2 separate regions of the Homo sapiens genome follow, and region 1 is linked to region 2. A link means that fine-mapping ties the variant in region 2 to the expression of a gene that starts in the linked region. Tissue or cell type: tibial artery. Region 2 holds a variant in brackets; the other region holds the start of a gene. All regions are shown on one strand. Distances are between the middles of the regions.

Region 1 (10,347 bases), 100 kb after region 2:
TAATCAAACCCAAAGAGGGGTTGTGGGAATCCCAAATTGAAGCTAGTTGGTCAGATGTTCTGGAGGCCCAGACTTGACTCTGGGTCTAGGGGAGAGAGGAGGCAGTTTTGTGGGACTGAGCCCTCAACCTCTGGGATGTGATGCTATCTTGAGGTAGATAGTGTCAGAACGGAGTTGAATTGGAGGATGCCCAGCTGGTGTCTTCTGCAGAACTGATTGCTTGTTGGTGTAGACTGCCCACCAACATCTGGTCACAGAAGTCTTTTGTGTTGATTGTTGCGGTATGAGAGCAGAGGACAATGCAGTTTGAGTTTCTCTGCATTCAGAAGTGGTTAGGGCTTTGCATTCTAGGTGCACCCAAGAGAAACATGTAGAGATGCTCACAGCCCATGGAGGACTGCCTCTTCTAACCTGCTTCCTTCCCCTTCCCATCCGACCACTTTCTTTTCCAGGCCAAGGTGGCAGTGGTGGTAATTATGAAACATCTTTCAAGGGAACATGATTTTTTTTTTAAGACAACTGTCTCCTCTTCACAGGGAAGTTTCCCTCCATTACTAGCCTTGGAGTATCTGGCTTTATTATTATTATTATTATTGTTGAGATGGAGTTTCACTCTTGTTACCCAGGCTGGAGTGCAATGGTGCGATCTCGGCTCACTGCAACCTCCGCCTCCCCAGTTCAAGTGATTCTCTTGCCTCAGCCTCCCAAGTAGCTGGGGTTACAGGCATGTGCCACCACACCCAGCTAATTTTGTATTTTTAGTAGAGATGGGGTTTTTCCATGTTGGTCAGGCTGGCCTTGAACTCCCGACCGCAGGTGATCCACCCACCTCGGCCTCCCAAAGTGTTGGGATTACAGGCATGAGCCACTGCACCTGGCCTGGCTTAATTATTTTTTGTTGTTGTTGGTTTTTGTTTGTTTGTTTATTTTTTGAGACAGGGTCTTGCTCTGTTGCCCAGGCTGGAGTGCAGTCGCGCAATCACAGCCTACTGCAGCCTCTACCTCCTGGGCTTAAGTGATCCTTTTGCCTCAGCCTCCTGAGTTGCTGAGACCACAGGCATATGCCACCATGCCTGGCTATTTAAAAAAAATTTTTTTTTAGTGGAAATGTGTTCTCAAGGGATCCTCCCATCTCAGCCTCTTAAAGTGCTGGGGTTACAGGTGTGAGCCACAGTACCCAGCTAATCTGGCTTAATTATATTAAGGGAGGTGGCAGTTTCTTTATAGGGAGCCAAGCCTCCAGGTGTTCATGGAACTGTGGTTTCTTGGGGGTGTGGGACTTGCAGTGCTAAGTCTCTTTGGACACAGTTGGTCACTATACTCCTTTAGCACTTGCAGGGCCCTCAAGCCACCAGGGCTGGAGTGATTGCCTGCATTCATTGTACCCCAGGGCCAGATCTGTTCCTTCTCAGGTTTTACCCAACCTGAAATTCACTTCTAAGGAAGGATATACATGCCAAGTTCTATTAAGGGGCTACCTTAAAGATACAATGTGTCTCCTCTTAAACAACCAACACCTAATTCAATTATGTTACTGGCAACTATGTATTATGTTTTGCACCCACAAAATATTCTGAACCAAAAACTCAGTTCTTGTTGTATCTGGGAGACCTCTGAAGTGAACCTTCTTTAAGAAGGAAGGGAAGGGCTGTGGGAAAAGGCTCCCTTCAGCTTTCTTCTGCCCATTCTCCAGGACGGCCAGATTTTAAACCTGTAGACTGCCCTGGAAATTGCAAAGGCTACATACTTGTTATATGAAGATCAGGAAAGAAATCATTTATTTATTTATTTATTTATTTATTTTTAAAAAGAAGTCATTTATGTATAAAGTCGATGGACTTAGAAGAAGCAAACGTAAGTCTGAAAGTTTGAAGAGGGTTTACAGTCATATGCTTCCTCTCCCAAAATGCCAAACAAGGCAGGCATTCTGGTTAAAGTAACTGTAATTATTGAGTGAAATAAGGATAGTAAACACTACCATAGGGGTAGTAGAACCCCGTGATATGAGTCCATTTCTTTGTATTAATCAGACAATTACGGCTAATGAGGTGTGCTCTTCTTTTTCAAAGTCATATTTAACTGGGAAAGATAAAGCAAAAGAAATGCTTCTTGCTGAATGTTTTCTTCTTGTTTCCTATGTGAGTAAAATTGGACCTTTTAAAATTTTGTCTTTTTTAAAGTCATATTTAACTGGGAAAGATAAAGCAAAAGAAATGCTTCTTGCTGAATGTTTTCTTCTTCTTTTGTGAGTAAAATTGGACCTTTTAAAATTTTGTCTTTTTTAAAGTCATATTTAACTGGGAAAGATAAAGCAAAAGAAATGCTTCTTGCTGAATGTTTTCTTCTTCTTATGTGAGTAAAATTGGACCTTTTAAAATTTTGCTGTAAATCATGATCTATTAGTGGCAATAAAAAAATCCATAGGTTCTTAGAGTTGCATCTACTTTACGGTAACTGAGCATGAATAAAGACAGAGTGTTTCAGGGACACGATTGCTTGATTTTCAAGTAGGGAAGTCCTGTGATGTCCCCTGATGTATCACATTGAATTCACTGATGTCTGGAGCTGAGACTGAAATGAGAGAATGGGACACAGAGCTTGGAAGGAGGTAATAGGAGGTAGGTTGATTCTGTGTGGATTTAGAATCAGCTCAGAAGAGTATTTGGGTTCAGGAAGTGCCACGTATCTTTGCTCACTTTATCAGCAGTAGAGGACTAAAATCTGGGCAGGGTGGCAGCGGGAGTCCTATTGCCTGTTTGTAGAAAAGTGACTGTGCCTGATGGCGATCTCAAGAGGAGGAGACAATGGCAGGGAATGAAGAAATGCCTCGGTTGATAGGTCAGTCTTGCAGCTGCCAGAAGATTGATGCTCTCTCAGCATGGACTTCAAATACACACTGATTGTTCTTTACTGTCAACTGGCCTTAATTGTTCTCTAAGGATCGCTGTAGATACGACGGTTGTTGGACTAAAGGGAGATAATCAAAAGAATCAAGGTGCATTGACGAGTCAGGATGTTATTCAATGGCAGGAGAGAGGGTAGAGAGTCAGGGTTAAGAGGTTAAGTAAGAACATAGTCTTTTGGAGCACATTGGTTCATATTGTCTACAGAGCAGCTGTGTGCCTATATAAAGTTACTTAACCTCTCTACACTTATCACATCTGTAAAATGGAGACAATGCTTTCATTGGGCAAGGCCAAGGGCCAGTGGAGGGGCTTCGACCTGGCAGCAATGGCCAGCATGGTCACTGGTACTTGTGAGCAACCTCCTTTCCTCCATTAGAGCACTATCCTGCTCTGTCAATGGTCACAAGTGCCCTCAGATACTCTTTTTTTTTTTTTTTTTCAGTTATCATCCTGTTTGTCTTCCCTGCAGCCTGTACACATCTGACCCTTCCCTTCTTACAGTCGTCTGCTCTTTTGGCTTTTCTGATGCGTCCCACACCTCTCTGACCCTTGCTTCCAGTCTCCTTCCTTTGGCTGTACGCTGTCCTCCTAGATTCTTCACAATTTGGATGATCTTCCCTATTCATTCCATCCTTTCTCATGCCACCTTTGGGCTGATGACTACTGATCAATATTCCTAGTCCAAACCTCCTGTGTGTCCAGTGGCTTATGGGACACGTACACTGGGATGTCCCCCAAACATTTCAAACTCAACACATGTAGATGAGAACAATCTTTCTCCTAAAGCATGTTTCTCCACCTGTGCTTTTATTGGCTGTCAGGCACGTAGTCACCCAACTTGGTGCTAGAAACTTGGGAGTCATCCTACCTCGGCTGGTTTTCTTCTCTTGCAGATTGCATCAGCTGCCCAGTTCCCTCCTCTCCATGCCCCCTGCCAATGCCTCATCACATTTTGCTTTCAGACTGCCTCCCAACTCACTTCTGTGCCCGCAGTGTGGCCTCACATCTGTCTACCTGTCACTGCCAGAGCCAGCTCTCTGGTGAGGAAGTCAGAACGTCATTGCCCCCACATTATTGACAGTACACAACTTAGGAAACCCGTAGTGCCCCTTTCTACTCAGCCACTCTTGCAGTCTGGTCCTCTGCCCCATCCCTGCAATCTTCTAGGAAGCTTATCTACCTATTGACTGGCAGCACCATGCCCCCGTGCCTCTGTTCTTCCTGCTGCGTGGAAATGAAGGCTAATGGATATTGGCTACTCCAGTAGCAGGCTGCATAGATGTACCACGTTGTTTTAAGCCATTTACATGAGTATTTCCCCCACAAGCCAGAGGTTTCCTCCGACCAAGTATCTTGTCTTGTTTATCTTTGGTCCCAGAATCTACTATGGTGAATGAGACATGGTGTGTGCCCAAGGCACGGAATAAACGATCAGAAATGATTTATTTATTCAGAGTGGGCTGTCAGCTTCAGCCGCTGACTTTTCTAGAGACCGGCTCCCTCGGGGCTTCAGCGCTCTTGGGCCCCCGCAGCCACGCAGGTGAAGGGCAGCGGGGTGGCTGGCTGTGGGAGGGCTGGGCTGGGTGGCTGCCCTCGCGCCTGCGCCCTCGGCTGCTCCTCTCCGGGCGCGTCTCTGTGCGCGTGTGTCTGTTTGGAGCGGAGGAGAGGCTTGGGTGACAGGCGAGGGGTGGGGGGAAGAGTTCAGCCTGAGTCACAGTCTCATTCACTGATTTCTCTTCGGCTGGACGGAGGCTGCCTCCTCACGCGGCTCCCAACTATTCCCGTAGCTCAGTGCCCCCCTCCCGCCGCTCTACTCAGCCAGGCAGACAGACTGACAGACTCGCTAGTGAGTAGCGGCGGCTTGAGCGCCCGGGCAGCGCGGCGGGCTGTCGCCGGCGGTCTTGTCTTCCCACGGGCTCTGTGTGTGTGTGTGTGTGTGTGTGTGTGTGTGTGTGTGTGTGTGTAGGATGTGCGTGTATGTGATGTGCGCGCAGGGGGTGTCCCTGGGATTCCACGCCTGCTCCAAGAGCTCCCTGCCGGGATCCGCGTGTCCATCCGAGTCTGCGATGCTGTGAGGGCGCTCGCCTAAGCAGGGGGTTCGGACGCCCCCCGCGAGCGGCGAGAGTTTGCTGGGATTCCCCGGCTCCTCACGCAGCGGCTGGTGGGGTTCCCCGGGAAGGCGCCTGGGTAAGGCAGCGGCGGGGAAGCCCGGGATTGTGAGTGGCTGGCAGGCCGGGAATCTGGGAGCGGGTTTGGCCCAGCACAGCCGAGGGAGATGCCGGAGCGGCCACCCTTGGCCGCCCAGCCTCTCTGCCTTTCTCCCTTGCCCTTCCTCCTTTCTTTTCTCAGCAGCATCACAAAGGCGCGCTGCAAAATGAAACCCAGTGTAGTGAAGCTCGGCTGTCTCCCACCTGGTGCATATTCCGCCCCCCGTCCTTGCCCCAGGCTGGAGGAGTGGAGTGGGGGTCCCCAAGATTAGGGGCGGGGTCTTACCACGGGGGCACACCTGTTTTCGATTCTTGCTGAATTCAAGCTGGGTGCGGGATCGCGAGAGAGGTTCCAGTACGCCGGTGTGTGTGTGTGTGTGTGTGTGTGTGTGTGTGTGTGTGTGTGGCCGCGCACGCGCACACGCTCCCCAGGCCCACGCTAGCGGGGTGCGCTCAGTCAATAGCACACCTCCCCGCCGGCCCGCGTGCGCCCAGCCGGCTCCGTGGGCTCCTCGCGCGCTCTCTGACAGCGTGCCGGGATCTCTTTGTTTGGTTGTGGCTTCCCTAGCTCTCGGCAAAGCAGACGGATTTTCGGTTTCGTTTGATACCGCGCTCTGGGACTTAGTGCGGGCCACAGCCTCGAATGCCCCTGGTATTTGTAATTGAAGAGTTCTTTCGGTCAGGGGGTTATTTTTGGTGTTGGGAATAAAGAGGCAAGCATGTTGACCTTTTTGCTGCTGCCTTCGGCTTTGAATGTGTGTCTCTGGTGGAGCAGACAGATTCAAATCTAGTCGCGCACACGTGCCAACGCACACCAGTGTGCACACACATTTCTACACACGTAGTTTACCCCCACCTTCTTTTTTCCTTTTAGAAAAATTGGGACAGGGAATACATTGTGTGTCTGTGAAAAAGTTTCCTTTGTTCTTTTGGGCATTTTCTATTTTGAGTAATGGAGTAGGAGTACGGAAAGGCTGCAGTTAGTTCACTCGATTAAAAGACACTGCCTCTGAGTCAGAGCTGCCAGGTTGATAATTATTAACATATAAAAGCAAACGCAATGTTTAAGGCAGAAGGGGCGGGACGGGGGCAGGTCCGCGGCAGACAATGAGGGAGAGTCTCCGCCGACCGCCTGCTGCTTATTGTTCCGGGACTGGAGACTGCAGCCGGCTGCTGCCTAGTCCTCCGGGGCTCCGCTCCTGACTAGCTCCTCCGTCCCTCTAGGGACGGTTCGGGGTCACCTAACCCTGGTCCCCGGGGCGCTGGGACGCTAGCCCCAAGCCGCAGCCGCTCTTCGCTGACCGCCCTCTTTCTGCTTTGCAGGTCGGCAGCTTCACTCCCGAGGGTGCCGCGAGCCCAGGCGGCGAACACCCGGTACCCCTGGCGCAGCGAGGTGGGATGCTGTACGGACAGCAGCGCTAAGTGCCCCCCCACCCCCGGCGCAGGGTGCACTCGCTCCTGGCCGCGGGCCCAGCGGCGGCGGCGGCGGCGGCGGCGGAGGGGATGAGCCCGGGACGCGCGAGGCGCCTGCCTCAAGCTACCGCCCGGAGAGGGACGCCGAGTAGGGCTCATCGCAGTACCGCGCGGACCCCTGCCCCCTGTGGCACGCGGCTGCGGAGCCTTGAAGCCGTGTCTGTGATCAGGATGCACTGGGCGCCTCGCAGCTGGTGAGGATGCCCTGCTGCGCGGCCCTGCGCCCCCAGCCCCAGTCCCAGGTGGGCAAGACTGACTGGGCCCGGCTTCGGCCCCTCGTGCCGGTGGATGAAACGTGCCGGAGTGCTTGGGTGCCATCAGCTATCAAATCTGAATTCTAAGCGCCATGGACGAAGGCACTGGACTGCAGCCCGGGGCGGGAGAGCAGCTGGAGGCGCCGGCCACTGCAGAAGCTGTCCAAGAGAGGTGCGAGCCGGAGACCCTCAGGTCTAAGAGTTTACCGGTCCTCAGCAGCGCCTCCTGCCGGCCAAGCCTCAGTCCCACTAGTGGAGACGCCAACCCGGCCTTTGGCTGTGTGGATTCTTCGGGCCACCAGGAGTTGAAGCAAGGCCCGAACCCGTTGGCCCCCAGTCCCTCTGCCCCGTCCACTTCGGCGGGGCTCGGGGACTGTAACCACAGGGTGGACCTCAGCAAAACCTTCTCGGTGTCCTCCGCCTTGGCCATGCTCCAGGAGAGAAGGTGCCTCTACGTGGTCCTCACGGATTCCCGTTGCTTCCTGGTGTGCATGTGCTTTCTGACCTTCATCCAGGCGTTAATGGTCTCTGGGTACCTGAGCAGCGTAATTACCACCATTGAAAGGCGCTACAGTCTGAAGAGTTCCGAGTCGGGGCTGCTGGTCAGCTGCTTTGACATCGGGAACCTGGTGGTGGTGGTGTTCGTCAGCTACTTCGGCGGCCGGGGTCGGCGGCCCCTGTGGCTGGCCGTGGGTGGACTCCTCATCGCCTTCGGGGCAGCCCTCTTCGCCTTACCTCACTTCATCTCGCCCCCCTACCAGATCCAAGAGTTGAACGCCTCGGCCCCCAACGACGGCCTGTGTCAGGGTGGCAACTCCACCGCCACTTTGGAGCCTCCGGCCTGTCCGAAGGACTCGGGAGGAAATAATCACTGGGTCTACGTGGCTTTATTCATTTGCGCGCAGATTCTCATTGGAATGGGCTCCACACCTATTTATACCCTGGGACCAACCTACTTAGATGACAATGTCAAGAAAGAAAACTCCTCCTTGTACCTAGGTAAGACTTTCCTGTTCTCTCAGATATGTTTCACTCACACTGAAACTTACTTTCCTTACAAAAATCAAAAGGAAACATGTTCTTTCACATTTTCATGTATATTATAGATTAAAGTTCACTTTATTTTACGTTTTAGCCTTGCTGTAGTGTGTTTTCAGTTTGGGAGAGAATCAATTAGTTGAGAGTTCTTGAAACTAATTTTCAGACTCATACTTCATGTTTGTCTTTTCCCAAGTAACATAAACTTTAAACTGTGGGGTGATGCTTCTCTCTGTTGCTACCTACCTATGGAAAAGCTCCAATTTGTCAAGTTTATATTCTAATACACTTGTTGAGGAAGGAATAGCAGTACCTCATGTGTAAAGTTTTGATGATTTTCTGCTTCTATCTGCTGCTGCTTCTGATTTCTGTCCAGAGCAGCAGGGATGGTGGCGTGGCCAGACTACATACATCATGCTTTATTGCCTTCATACCTGTGTTTCTTTTCTTTTTTTTTTTTTTCTTTTTAAGATGGAGTCTTGCTCTGTCACCCAGGCTGGAGTGCAATGGCATGATCTCAGCTCACTGCAACCTCCGCCTCCTGGGTTCAAGTGATTCTTCTGCCTCAGCCCCCGAGTAGCTGGGATCACAGGTACCCATCATGCCTGGCTAATTTTTGTAGAGATGGGGTTTCACCATGTTTGTCAGGCTGGTCTTGAACTCTTGACCTCAGGTGATCCACCCTCCTTGGTCTCCCAAAGTGCTGGGATTCATACCTGTTTTTCTTATACGTCACCTGCACCACTATCTAAAAACAACAACAAAAATTTGAATAATGTCAAATGACTGGCTTACCTTTATGAAGAAGCAACACCACAGGTTATAAGGTTTATCCAAAGCTATTTTTATTGCTGTCAAAAACCCTCAATTGTATGAACTTGGGAGAAGAATCCATTCCTATTTTTCTGAAAAGCCGTGGCTGTGGGATTTGGTGTGTTGACTTGCATAAGTCAGCATCAGTGGACAGGGGTGCTTGAGTTAAGTACAGGGGGCTCATCTGAGGCCAGGCAGCAGTTGCAGAGGGTATGAAAATTTACATCCTAGAAATTTGAGGTTGTTAGCACCTCCCTGTAGTAGCTGGTTCTTAAAAACTGAACTTCTAAGGGATGGATTTGAACCCATAAGAAGGATCAATGGCTGTCATACCAGATGAGATTTTTGTTTTTCTATTTCTGTACTGGAGTGCAACCTAAACAAGCTAAAGGATTTTACTTTACTGAAAAAACTGAAATGGAAGCTGGGTGTGGTGGTGTGTGCCTGTAGTCCCAGCTACTCGGGAGGCTGAGGCAGGAGGATTGCTTGAACCCAGGGACTTGAGACCAGCCTGGGAAACATAGTGAGACCCCATCTCTTAAAAAAATTAAAATGATAAATAAGCAAATACTAGCTATATTTAGCAATTTATTAGCAATGTGCTGATAGGATTCTTGATTTGGGAATAGTAAGATTTTCAAAGGACGGTGTAAATGATATCCAATATAAGAGGGCTATGCTTTGTCCTCAGTATGTTTACTGTCCCCAAAAGCTGTTATAGAGGGGTGTTTGAGTCCTCAGTAATCCCCACTAACTGGTTCAATGGGTCAGAAAAAGAGTTTTATAACTTATTTTTATCACTACATGCAAGAGAAAGAAATTTCCTTTCTGGGTAGAGAAGAATAGCTTGCTTACCATCTTGCCTCTCTGTTTTCTAACATTTATTAAGACAAAATTTTAAACATACAGAAAAGTTGAAACAATAGTATAATAAGCACCAGTATACCCACGACACAGACCCAATGATTGTTTATTTTGTCATGCTTGCTTTATCAACCTGTGTGTGAGTGTATATATGTATAGAAATATATTTTGGGAGATGGGAGGCTAAGCCTTCTAAAAGTAATTGCAGACACTGCCAGAGCATCTTCTAAAAATGAGGGTATTCTTTTACATAACTGAAGGAACATCAACATCCTAAGGAAGTTCATAATCATTCCCTAATATCATTAAATATTCAGGCCATATTCAAATTTCCTCAATTGTCCTCTGAAAGTCTTTTATACTGATTGATTGATTGAGACAGGGTCTTTCTTTCACCCAGGCTGGAGTGCAGTGGCACAATCTCAGCTCACTGCAACTTCTGCCTCCCAGATTCAAGCAATCCTCCCACCTCAGCCTCTCAAGTAGCTGGGACTAGAGACCTGTGCCACCGTGCCCAGCTAATTTTTTGTGGAGATAGAGTTTCATCATGTTTCCCAGGCTAATAATAATTTTTTAAATGAGGAACTAATCAAGATTCATTCATGCATTGCATTTGGCTGTTAGCCACTTTAGCCTTCTATAATCCAGAACTGTGCCTCAACTTTTTTCTTTTTCCATGGCATAGACTTTTTGAAGGGGCAAGGCTAATGTTCCACATTCTAGATGTATCTGATCATTTCCTCATGGTGTGACTTACCTTGTTCCTCCATTCCCTATATTTCTTGTATACTA
Region 2 (10,347 bases):
TTGCCTTAATTTGTGTATTTGTTTTTGTGGAGCTTTTACATGTCTGAATTGAGGCTGGGTTTTAAGTGGATGGTCCTGCATCTGCTTGTGGCTTGCCTTGGCAATATTGTATAGAGGAACCACATTAGGGTGTGGGTCTTGACATGGAAGACAGGCTCATCAGAGGATTTCCAGGTAACATAGACCAAGCCTTCTCAGGAGGGAGATTTGAGAGGGTGAAGGGGGAACATCATTACTAAGAGGTGGGAATTAATTCTGGGGAGAGAAGGGACAAAAAAATCACAGATATTTATTTCAACAGATATTACAATGGTTTGTGGCTTCCAAAGAGCCACAGTACATACAGAGATACATGGTATATCCGTAGTATTAAAATTTCATGGTGAGGCATGATTAGGAAAAAATGTCTGCTGGTATAGAACGGTGCACTGATATGCTGGGGCAGCTCTTGAGGTGTGTTAGAGGCCAGGCGGTGATGATGAAGATGATCAGGGTGATGCCATGCCTTTGTTGAGGGTGTATTTATTGTATGCTAGGCCTGTGTAAACACCACATGTGCATGATGTCATTTCATATTCAAAAGACCAAGTACGGAAAGTGAGATTTGCAGAAGCTGGGCAAGTTGTCCAGGGGAGGAGGTAATGTTTAGTGTTTGAGAATTCAGGCTGAGGTATGAGACCAGGCCTCCAACGATAGCATTTACTAGTCATTGGACCTCTGTTAGGCCTCACTTCCTCAATTATAAGTTGGAAATATTAATAGTAGCTTCTAAAGGGTTACTGGGAGAACTATATGACAAAATGCATATAAAGTGCATAGTAAAATGCTGAATAAAGGTTAGTTATTATAATTATTATATTAAATATAATAATATATTTAATACATATACTATTTTAAATACAATGACTATATATCATATCTATAATATAAATGTAAATATTATAATACATTCTATTTATAACATAAATATAACAATTATAATATTTTGCAATATATAATATAATAAAATTGTTATTATTATTATTAAAGTCTGCACCCTTCACCACTTCCTTTTTTGTTTCAGCTAGAGTGCTACACTTGGTTTCTTTTCTTTTCTTTTTTTTTTTTTTTTTGAGACAAAGTCTCGCTCTGTCGCCCAGGCTGGAGTGCAGTGGTGCGATCTCGGCTCATTGTAGGCTCCGCCTCCCGGGTTCATGCCATTCTCCTGCCTCAGCCTCCTGAGTAGCTGGGACTGCAGGTGTGTGCCACCACACCGGCTAATTTTTGTATTTTTAGTAGAGATGGGGTTTCACCATGTTGGTCAGGCTGGTCTCGAACTCCTGACCTTGTGATCTGCCCACCTCAGCTACCCAAAGTCCTGGGATTACAAGTGTGAGCCACAATGCCCGGCCCCTAGAGTTGGTTTCAATGTGTGTACTTTTTTTTGCTTGTCTCCACTTCTTTTGTGTTTGATTTCTTCTTCTATATATATATTTTAAATATAGAGACAGGGTCTCACTATGTTGCCTAGGCTGGTCTTGAACTCCTAGACCCAAGCAATCCTCCTGTCTCAGCCTCCCAAAGTGCTGGGATTACAGGCGTGAGCCACTGCACCTGGCCTCTTTTCCTATCCTCTTTTTTTTTTTTTTTGAGAGGAGGTCTTGCTGTGTTGGCCGGGCTGGAGTACAGTGGCATGGTCTTAGCTCACTGCAGCCTCTGCCACTCGAGTTCAAGTGATTCTCCTGCCTCAGTCTCACGAGTAGGTGGGATTACAGGTGGCTGCCACCACGCCCAGCTAATTTTTTGTATTTTTAGTATAGAGGGGGTTTCACCATGTTGGCAAGACTGGTCTTGAACTCCTGACCTCAGGTGATCCACCCGCCTCGGCCTCCCAAAGCGCTGGGATTGCAGGCGTGAGCCATTGTGCCCAGCCAACTTCTATTCTTGGTAAACATCAATAAATACGTCTTTAGGGATAATAAACTGACATTTTAGGGCATAGCCAAGCGCACATAAAATAATATTCAATTTCACAGATGCTATTTTATCTTTCAAATATATTTGATATTTGAAATGCATCTTCAATAAAAGACAGATGACCAACTCAAACATTTTTTCTACATATATGAAAGGATTGGTATAATTAATAATGAAATTGCTTTTAAAAATCACTAAGAGATGATAACTCTTCCAACAGAAATGGGCAAAGGACAAGATGAGGCAATTCATGCTAAAAAAGGAACAAAAATGGCTAATAAACAGGTAAGCAGTGTTTACTCTGGTAACAGTGAATTGTCTTTCTTTTTTTTTTTGGAGACTGGGTCTATCTTTTTTTTTTTGAGATGGAGTCAGGCTGTCACCCAGGCTGGAGTGAGGGTCTCACCATCTTGCCCAGGCTGGTTGTAAACTCCTGGGCCCAAGCCATCCTGCTGCCTTGGCCTCTCAAAGTGTTGGGATTATAGGTGTGAGCCACTGTGTCCAGCTGAATTGTCATTTTTGTTCATGAAATTGGTGAAATTTATTTTTTATTTTATTTATTTATTTTTTTTGAGACAGAGTCTTGCTCTGTTGCTGAGGCTGGAGTGCAGTGGCGCTATCTCGGCTCACTGCAACCTCCACCTCCTGGGTTCAAGCAGTTCTCCTGCCTCAGCCTCCCAAGTAGCTGGGATTACAGGCATGCACCACCCACACCCAGCTAATTATTTTGTATATTTAGTAGAGATGGGGTTTCACAGTGTTGGCCAGGCTGGTTTCAAATTCCTGACCTAAAATGATCCGCCCTCCTGGGCCTCTCAAAGTGCTGGGATTACAGGCATGAGCCACCGTGCCTGGCCAAAATTTAAAATGATCATTATATCTCTTGCTAGTGAGAATGTGAAAACATAAGCAATCATGCACTATTGTTGGCAGCATAAAATAATTTAACCTGTTAATAAAAAGCAGAGCTGTTTTTGGAGGAAAGTTTATATGTATCAAAAGCCTTACAAATTATGCAAGACTTTTGATCAGGAATTCCATTTCTAGGAGTTTATCTTAAGGAAAAAATATTTTCTTTATATTTTCATCTGAATGCAAAGATGCATATGTAAGGATTATTATTGCAGTTGTCTTTATAATAATAAACAATTAGAAACAAGTTAAATACAGGCCGGGTGCTGTGGCTCATGCCTGTAATCCTAGCACTTTGGGAGGCTGAGGCAGGTGGATCACTTGAACTCAGGAGTTCGAAACCGGCCTGAGCAAACATGGTAAATCCCCTTCTCTACTAAAAACACAAAAATCAGTTGGGTGTGGTGATGTGCGTCTGTAATCTCAGCTACTCATGAGGCTGAGGCACAAGGGTTGCTTGAAACCAGGAGGTAGAGGCTGCAGTGAACTGAGCTCTTGCCACTGCACTCCATCCTGGATGACAGAGTGAGACCCTGTCTCAAAAAAAAAAAAAAAAAAGAAAGAAAGAAACAGGTAAATTCTTAGTAATAGCTATTTCAGTTATTATTGTCAAAGACACTATTGTTCAATAAAATGGAAAGATTTTTCTTTTCTTTTTTTTTGAGAAAGGGTCACACTCTGTCTCCCAGTCTGGAGTGCAGTGGCACAATCATGGCTCACTGCAGCCTGGATCTCCCAGGCTCAAGGGATCCTCCTGCTTCGGCCTCCCGAGTAACTGGAACTACAGGCATGTGCCACTAGCCCACCTAATTTTCTTATTTTTGGTAGAGATGGGGTTTCACCATGTTGCCCAGGCTGGTCTGGAACTCCTGGGCTCTATTGATTCGTCTGCCTTAGCCTCCCAAAGTGCTGGGATTACGGGCGTGAACCATGGCACCTGGCTGATTTTTCAATTAATGTTGTCAAGGTAAAAAATCAGAGCATAGAATGGTACCTGTTCTATGATACTGTGCTTGCTTAAGTAGAAAAATGTGTCCATATGGCCATAGAAAAATATTGGAAGCACATAGCTCAAACTGTTAAAAGCAATTGCCTTTGCATATAGAATTACAGGCGATTATGTTCTTTTTTGAAGTTTCTGCAACAAGCAGGTTTTATGTTCTAGTTATTATTGCTGCATTATAAACCATTGTAAACTTAGTGACATAAAAGAACAATTATTTTATTATGTCAACAAGTTCTGGAATCAAGAATTTGGAAGGTCAGAGTGGGGATGGCTTGTTTCTGCTTCATCCTGTCTCAGATCTTAGCTGGGAAGTGACTAAACAGCTGGAGGCTGGAATAATCAGAAGGCTAATTTGCTCACCTGCCTGACACCTGGGCTAGGAGGACATTAAAGGCTGGTCTGATGCCAGGCGCAGCAGCTCACGCATGTAATCCCAGCACTTTGGGAAGCTGAGGCGGGTGGATCACTGGAGGTCGGGAGTTCGAGAGCAGCCTGATCAATATGGTGAAACCTGGTCTCTACTAAAAAAGATACAAAATTAGCCTGGATGCAGTGGCTCATGCCTGTAATCCCAGCACTTTGGGAGGTCGAGGCGGGCAGATCATGAAGTCAGGAGTTCGAGACCAGCCTGGCCAACATGGTGAAACCCTGTTTCTACTAAAAATACAAAAATTAGATGGGCGTGGTGGCGGGCGCCTGTAATCCTAACTACTCAGGAGGCTGAGGCAGGAGAATGGCTTGAATCCGGGAGGCAGAGGTTGCAGTGATCTGAGATTGTGCTACTGTACTTCAGCCTGGGTGACAGAGCAAGACTCCATGTCAAAAAAAAAAAAAAAAATTACAAAATTAGCTGGGCGTGGTGGTGCATGCCTGTAATCCCAGCTACTTGGGAGGGTGAGGCAGGAGAATTGCTTGAACCCGGGAGGCAGAAGTTGTAGTGAGCTGAGATCGCACCCTTGCACTCCAGCCAGGGAGGACAACAAGAGTGAAACTCTGTCTCAAAAAAACAAAACACAACAAAAAGATATATAGGATCTCTGACATCGCCTGTAATCCCAGTTCTTTGGGAGGCCGAGGTGGACGAATCGCCTGAGCTTAGGAGTTCAAGACCACCCTGGGCAACATGGTGAAACCCCTTCTCTACTAAAATCCAAAATCAGGCAGGCATGGTGGCAGATGCCTGTAGTCCCAGCTACTCAGAAGGCTGACGCATAAGAACTGCTTGAGCCTGAGAGGTGGAGGTTGCAGTGAGTTGAGATTGTGCCACGGCACTCCAGCCTGGGGAACAGAGCAAGACTTCATCTCAAAAAAAAAAAAAAAAAGACTGGTCTGCCTTCTGAAGCCCCTACCTGTGGCTTTTCCATGTAGCCTGGCTTCCTACCACCAGCATGCTGGCCTCGGTGTAGTTGGACTCTCATGACAGCTCAATAGAAGTTGAATTTCAGCAAGTCACAAGCCAGTCCATACTTCAAGTCGCAAACCTATCCATATTCAAGACATCCATATTCAGTTTGAACTTCTACAAGTCTTAAACCTGTCCATATTTATGAGGAAAGGGACACAGATACCACCTCTTGGTCACTTTGTGGAAAAGTGGGATGGGAGACATAGTTGCAGCCATCTTTGGAAATACATATATATTACTTTTGTATTTGGAAAAAAATCCATAAATATCATTGCAGTTAAAAAAAAAGTCTATAAAATACCTAGGAGCCTAATTATCTGAGGTATTCATTGCAGAATCATTTTGCATAATTGAGTTGAAAAGAACTTTCCTAGGTTTTGGAAGGAAAGACATCTGTGTGTTGCTCCTTGTGTCCTGGGTGAAGGTGTTACCTTTGAGATAATCCTGTGTGTGGGTGCCAGGGTAGATGTGGGGAAGGATGGGGGCAGGATTGCCAGACACAACACAGGACATCCCGTTACATTTTTTTTTTTTTTTGAGATGGAGTCTTGCTGTGTCTCCCAGGCTGGAGAGCAGTGGCACTGTCTCGGCTCACTGCAACCTCCGTCACCCTGGTTCAAGCTATTCTCCTGCCTCAGCCTCCCCAGTAGCTGGGATTACAGGTGTGCACTACCACGCCCAGCTAATTTTTGTATTTTAAGTAGAGACACGGTTTCACCATGTTGGCCAGGCTGGTCTCGAACTCCTGACCTCAGGTGATCCACCCGCCTCGGACTCCCAAAGTGCTGGGATTACAGGCATAACCCATCCCATTAAATCTGAATTTTAGATAAGTTACAAATGTTTTGTGTAAGTGTGTCCCATGTCCCAAATATTGCATGTGCCATACTTATACTAAACAAATTTTCTTTGCTTATCTGAATTTCAAATTTAACTGGTTATCTCATATTATTGTTTTTGCTAAATCTGGCAGTCATAATTGGGGGCAGTTCTGGAGATAAGCCCGAATGGGCCATTGCCACCTTCTTATAACTCTCCCACTGCCCGGCAGTGACGAGAAGAGCTCTGGCAGTGGTAGGGAGATTCTATTTTCAGCGTGGGCATCAACACAGTCTGAGAATAGAACAGGGCAAGGGATGGGTGAAGGAAAGAATGTTTTCCAGTATGTGAAGGGGGATCTGCCAGTAGGGCTGGAAACCTGGACTTGATTCCTGGACTAGTTGAAAACTCACTTTGACCTTGGACAAGTCACTAAATCCCTCTATGGCCAAGTTTCTTGTATAAATCCT[A/TA]CTAGTCCAATAGAGGGTTCTTGGGAAGATGAATATGAAATGAGTAAAGCTGCTGTGAAAGCCTTAAAAAGGAGCCCTAGGAAGGAAAATTCAAAGTATTGGTGCTAGTTCCCTCATTCTGAGCTGGCCAACACAGGACACCTGAAGGGCTTTCTCTACAAACTTTCTCTGGATGAGCTCACATCATTGTTTTTTATTTTTCAAAGTATTTTATTTTATCTTTTTTACAGATAGGTCTGTCTTCATCACCCAGGCTGCAGTACAGTGGTGAGATCATAGCTCAGTGCAATCTCAAACTCCTGGGCTCCAGCAGTCCTCCCACCTCAGCCTCCCAAGTAGCTGGGACCACAGGAATGAGCCACCACACCCTGCTAATTTTTAAATTAATTTTTTTGTTTGTTTGTAGAGACAGGGTCTCACTGTATTGCCCAGGCTGGTGTCTAACTCCTGACTCCTGGTCTCAAGTGATCCTCCCACCTCAGCCTCCCAAAGTGCTGTGATTACAGGAGTGAGCCACCACGCTTGGCTAACATTGTTTTTAAACAAAATATCAAGCCAAAGTGTTGTTGCTTTTTAAAATCTATCCCCTGGCCCACTTTGGGCTACATGAACTAGGACAACACCAGACGTTTCTGTGAATTAAAGAGGTAAATGTGCTGTGTCATTAAGTACTACTTTTTCTTCGTCTTCACTTATCTGCTATGACTAGTCTGCTGTGAAGTTCACACTAGTTAGATGCATAATGTGCTCTAAAAAGCTGTGTTCTTTTCCTTCTCTCTCTGCTAAGATGCAATTCCAGTAGCTAAAGTAAGGCTAGTGAATTTATGCCTATTTCCAAATAGAGATCTGGCCAATGACAAAGGGTTTTGTTTTTTTTTTTAATTTTTTATTTATTGGTTACTAGGTAGAAAAGGCTCCTGCATGGCTACAGTCCGACATAGTTCTGCACAGCAGGAGGGAGGCAGGCAGCCTGCTCCACTAACAAGAGGAAGTCATTTTTACATAATTTTCACAAAGATAGAAGGGTTTCCATTTTCTGGGGGGGGCGATTACAGGCACCTGCCACCACGCCCGTCTAATTTTGTATTTTTAGTAGAGACAGGGTTTCACCATGTTGGTCAGGCTGGTTTCAAACTCCTGACCTCAGGTGAACCACCTGCCTCGGCCTCCCAAAGTGTTGGGATTACAGACATGAACCACTGCGCCCAGCTAAAACCTCTATTAACTGGGAACCAGTTGTTTGGAATCTTCAAATTCGCCCCACTTCCAAGTCTGCATTTTAGCATTTAGTATATTTTTTATCAAATACTCAAATATTTGCTGAGTATTGATTTCGTAAAGCAAGCCACTCTTAAGAAAGTCACATTGTAAGTTTATTAAAAAGGAATAAATAAAAACAATCTTAAGTATCTCCTGAGGTGGCTATACATTCAGCTCTGTTCCTTATTTTTGTATTTTTTATTTTGAGTGTAGCATTGTAAACATACAATGCATAGTGAGACTTTGGGTCCAGCGCTATGGCTAAAGCCTGGCAAAATCCCCAGGATTAAGTACCCATGTATTTTGACTATATGGGTACTTAATCAGTCAAGGGGAAATGCTTTTGTTAAAAACAAGGTTTTTCCCTACAATTAAATAAATAAAAATGTAAAAAAATTCAGGATCTGCCGGGTGCAGTGGCTCACACCTGTTATCCCAGCACTTTGGGAGGCTGAGGCGGGCAGATCATGAGTTCAGGAGTTCGAGACCAGCCTGGCCAATATGGTGAAACCCTGTTTCTACTAAAAATCCAAAAAGTTAGTCAGGCGTTGTGATGGGTGCCTGTAGTCCCAGCTACTCGGGAGGCTGAGGCAGGAGAATTGCTTGAACCCGGGGGGTGGAGGTTGCAGTGAGCCAAGATCACGCCAATGCACTCTAGCGAAACTGTGTCTCCAAAAAAAAAAAAAAAAAAAAAAAAAAATGGGATCCAGGACATAGGCTCATTTCACAGAAATTTAAACAATTTAAACAATTGCATGAATAACATCTTCTTCATAATCATAGTTTTACCATATGCTAGGTAATACTAATATTAACTCACTCCTATTTCCATGACAACTATGATCCAGTAAAACACTCGCAAAAGTCATGTCTCATTGGAAATATGTATTGGATATTTGAAGGTTATTTGACGATGAGCTAGACCCGGCTTAGACTGTACCTAGAGTGCATAAATCCTGTTTGCACATTAGATTTCTATGGAGGTGGGACCTGGTTCACCTTATTCTCCAGGCACTGACAGATAATTGAATCTCACTAAATATTTGATGAACAAAGTAAATAAACTGAAGAATAGTATTTCTTTTTTTTCTTTTTTTTTGAGACAGAGTCTCGCTGTGTCACCCAGGCTGGAGTGCAGTGGCACAATCTCGGCTCACTACAAGCTCTGCCTCCCGGGGTTCATGCCATTCTCCTGCCTCAGCCTCCAGAGTAGCTGGGACTACAGGCTCCCGCCACCACGCCCGGCTAATTTTTTTTTGTGTGTGTGTTTTTAGTAGGGACTGGGTTTCACTGTGTTAGCCAGGATGGTCTCGATCTCCTGACCTTGTGATCCGCCTGCCTCGGCCTCCCAAAGTGCTGGGATTACAGGTGTGAGCCACCGCACTCAGCCCTAAGGGTAGTATTTCTTTCTTTCTTTTTTTTTTGTTTTTTTTCGCTCTTGTTGCCCAGGCTGGAGTGCAATGGAGTGATCCCAGCTCACTACAACCTCCGCCTCCCAGTTTCAAGCAATTCTCCTGCCTCAGCCTCCTGAGTAGCTGGGATTACAGGCAGGAGCCACCACGCCCAGCTAATTTTGTATTTTTAGTAGAGATGGGGTTTCTCCATGTTGGTCAGGCTGGTCTCGAACTCCCAGCCTTAGGTGATCCACCCACCTCGGCCTCCCAAAGTGCTGGGATTACAGGCGTGAGCCACTGCGCCCGGCCAAGAGTAGTATTTCTTAAACTTGGGTCTTATAACTAAGGCTTAGAGAGGTTAAGTAAATTCCTCAGGGTCACACAGTAAGTGATGGAATGGGGATTCCAAACCGAGGACCCCAGGTCCCATGGCCTTAACTGTTACTGTCAATTGCCTGTTATGGTTAATTGACTCCTTAAATTATACATTCATACATACATACATACATACATACATACATACATATGTGTGTGTGTGTGTATGCATACAGTCATGTGTTGCTTAATGATGAGGACATGTTCTAAGAAATGAGTTATTAGGCAATTTTGTCATTGTGTGAACATCACAGGGTACACTTACAAGCCTAGATGGTATAGACTACTACACACCTGGGCTCCGTGATATAGTTACATACCTGTACAGTATGTTACTGTACTGAATACTGTAGGCAACTGTGATGCAATGGTATTTGTGTATCCAAACTAGAAAAGGTGCGGTAAAAATACAGTATAAAAGACAAAAAATGGTACACCTGTATAGGGGGCACTTACCGTGAATGGAACTCACAGGACTGGAAGTTGTTCTGGGTGAGTTGAGTGACTTTATATATTATAATAAAGCATTTAATAATAACAACACATTATTACTATTATTACTACCAATACATTATTACTATTATTAATAACAAGAGATTATTACTATTAATAATAATAATTTTTTATTACTATTATTAATATAAAATTTAATTTATAAAGCAGCACTCTTCTTTCCTTTAAAGACTCCAGCACTCAGTAGTCCTAGGATTCTCCTATCCAAGTACTAACCAGGCCTGACCTGGCTTAGTT

Alleles and levels. Alleles are on the strand shown, and positions count from the first base shown. SD is a standard deviation of normalised expression in the study named.
In carriers of allele A in region 2, the expression in tibial artery of the gene that starts at base 4,628 in region 1 tends to be lower than with TA alone (small effect, 0.36 SD a copy in GTEx).

Evidence for each region. PIP is the estimated chance that this variant, and not a neighbour inherited with it, causes the effect.
Region 1: it holds the start of SLCO5A1, and the variant in region 2 is fine-mapped to the expression of SLCO5A1 in tibial artery (GTEx, PIP 0.98).

What each region holds. Positions count from the first base shown.
Region 1 is chr8:69,829,259-69,839,605 of GRCh38, reverse strand. SLCO5A1 (solute carrier organic anion transporter family member 5A1) reads left to right here and starts at 4,628. Exons shown (of 10, transcript NM_030958.3): 1 at 4,628-4,752; 2 at 6,437-7,839. The coding sequence starts at 6,933. It overlaps SLCO5A1-AS1 (SLCO5A1 antisense RNA 1), which reads right to left and starts at 5,494. Exons shown (of 4, transcript NR_186568.1): 1 at 5,413-5,494. RefSeq lists silencers at 4,363-4,472, 6,563-6,652 and enhancers at 4,793-4,872, 6,303-6,372.
Region 2 is chr8:69,929,954-69,940,300 of GRCh38, reverse strand. It overlaps the pseudogene RNA5SP270. Among named protein-coding and RNA genes, the nearest start is that of SLCO5A1, 100 kb to the right of the region's middle. The variant A/TA (reference allele first, on the strand shown) is at 6,569.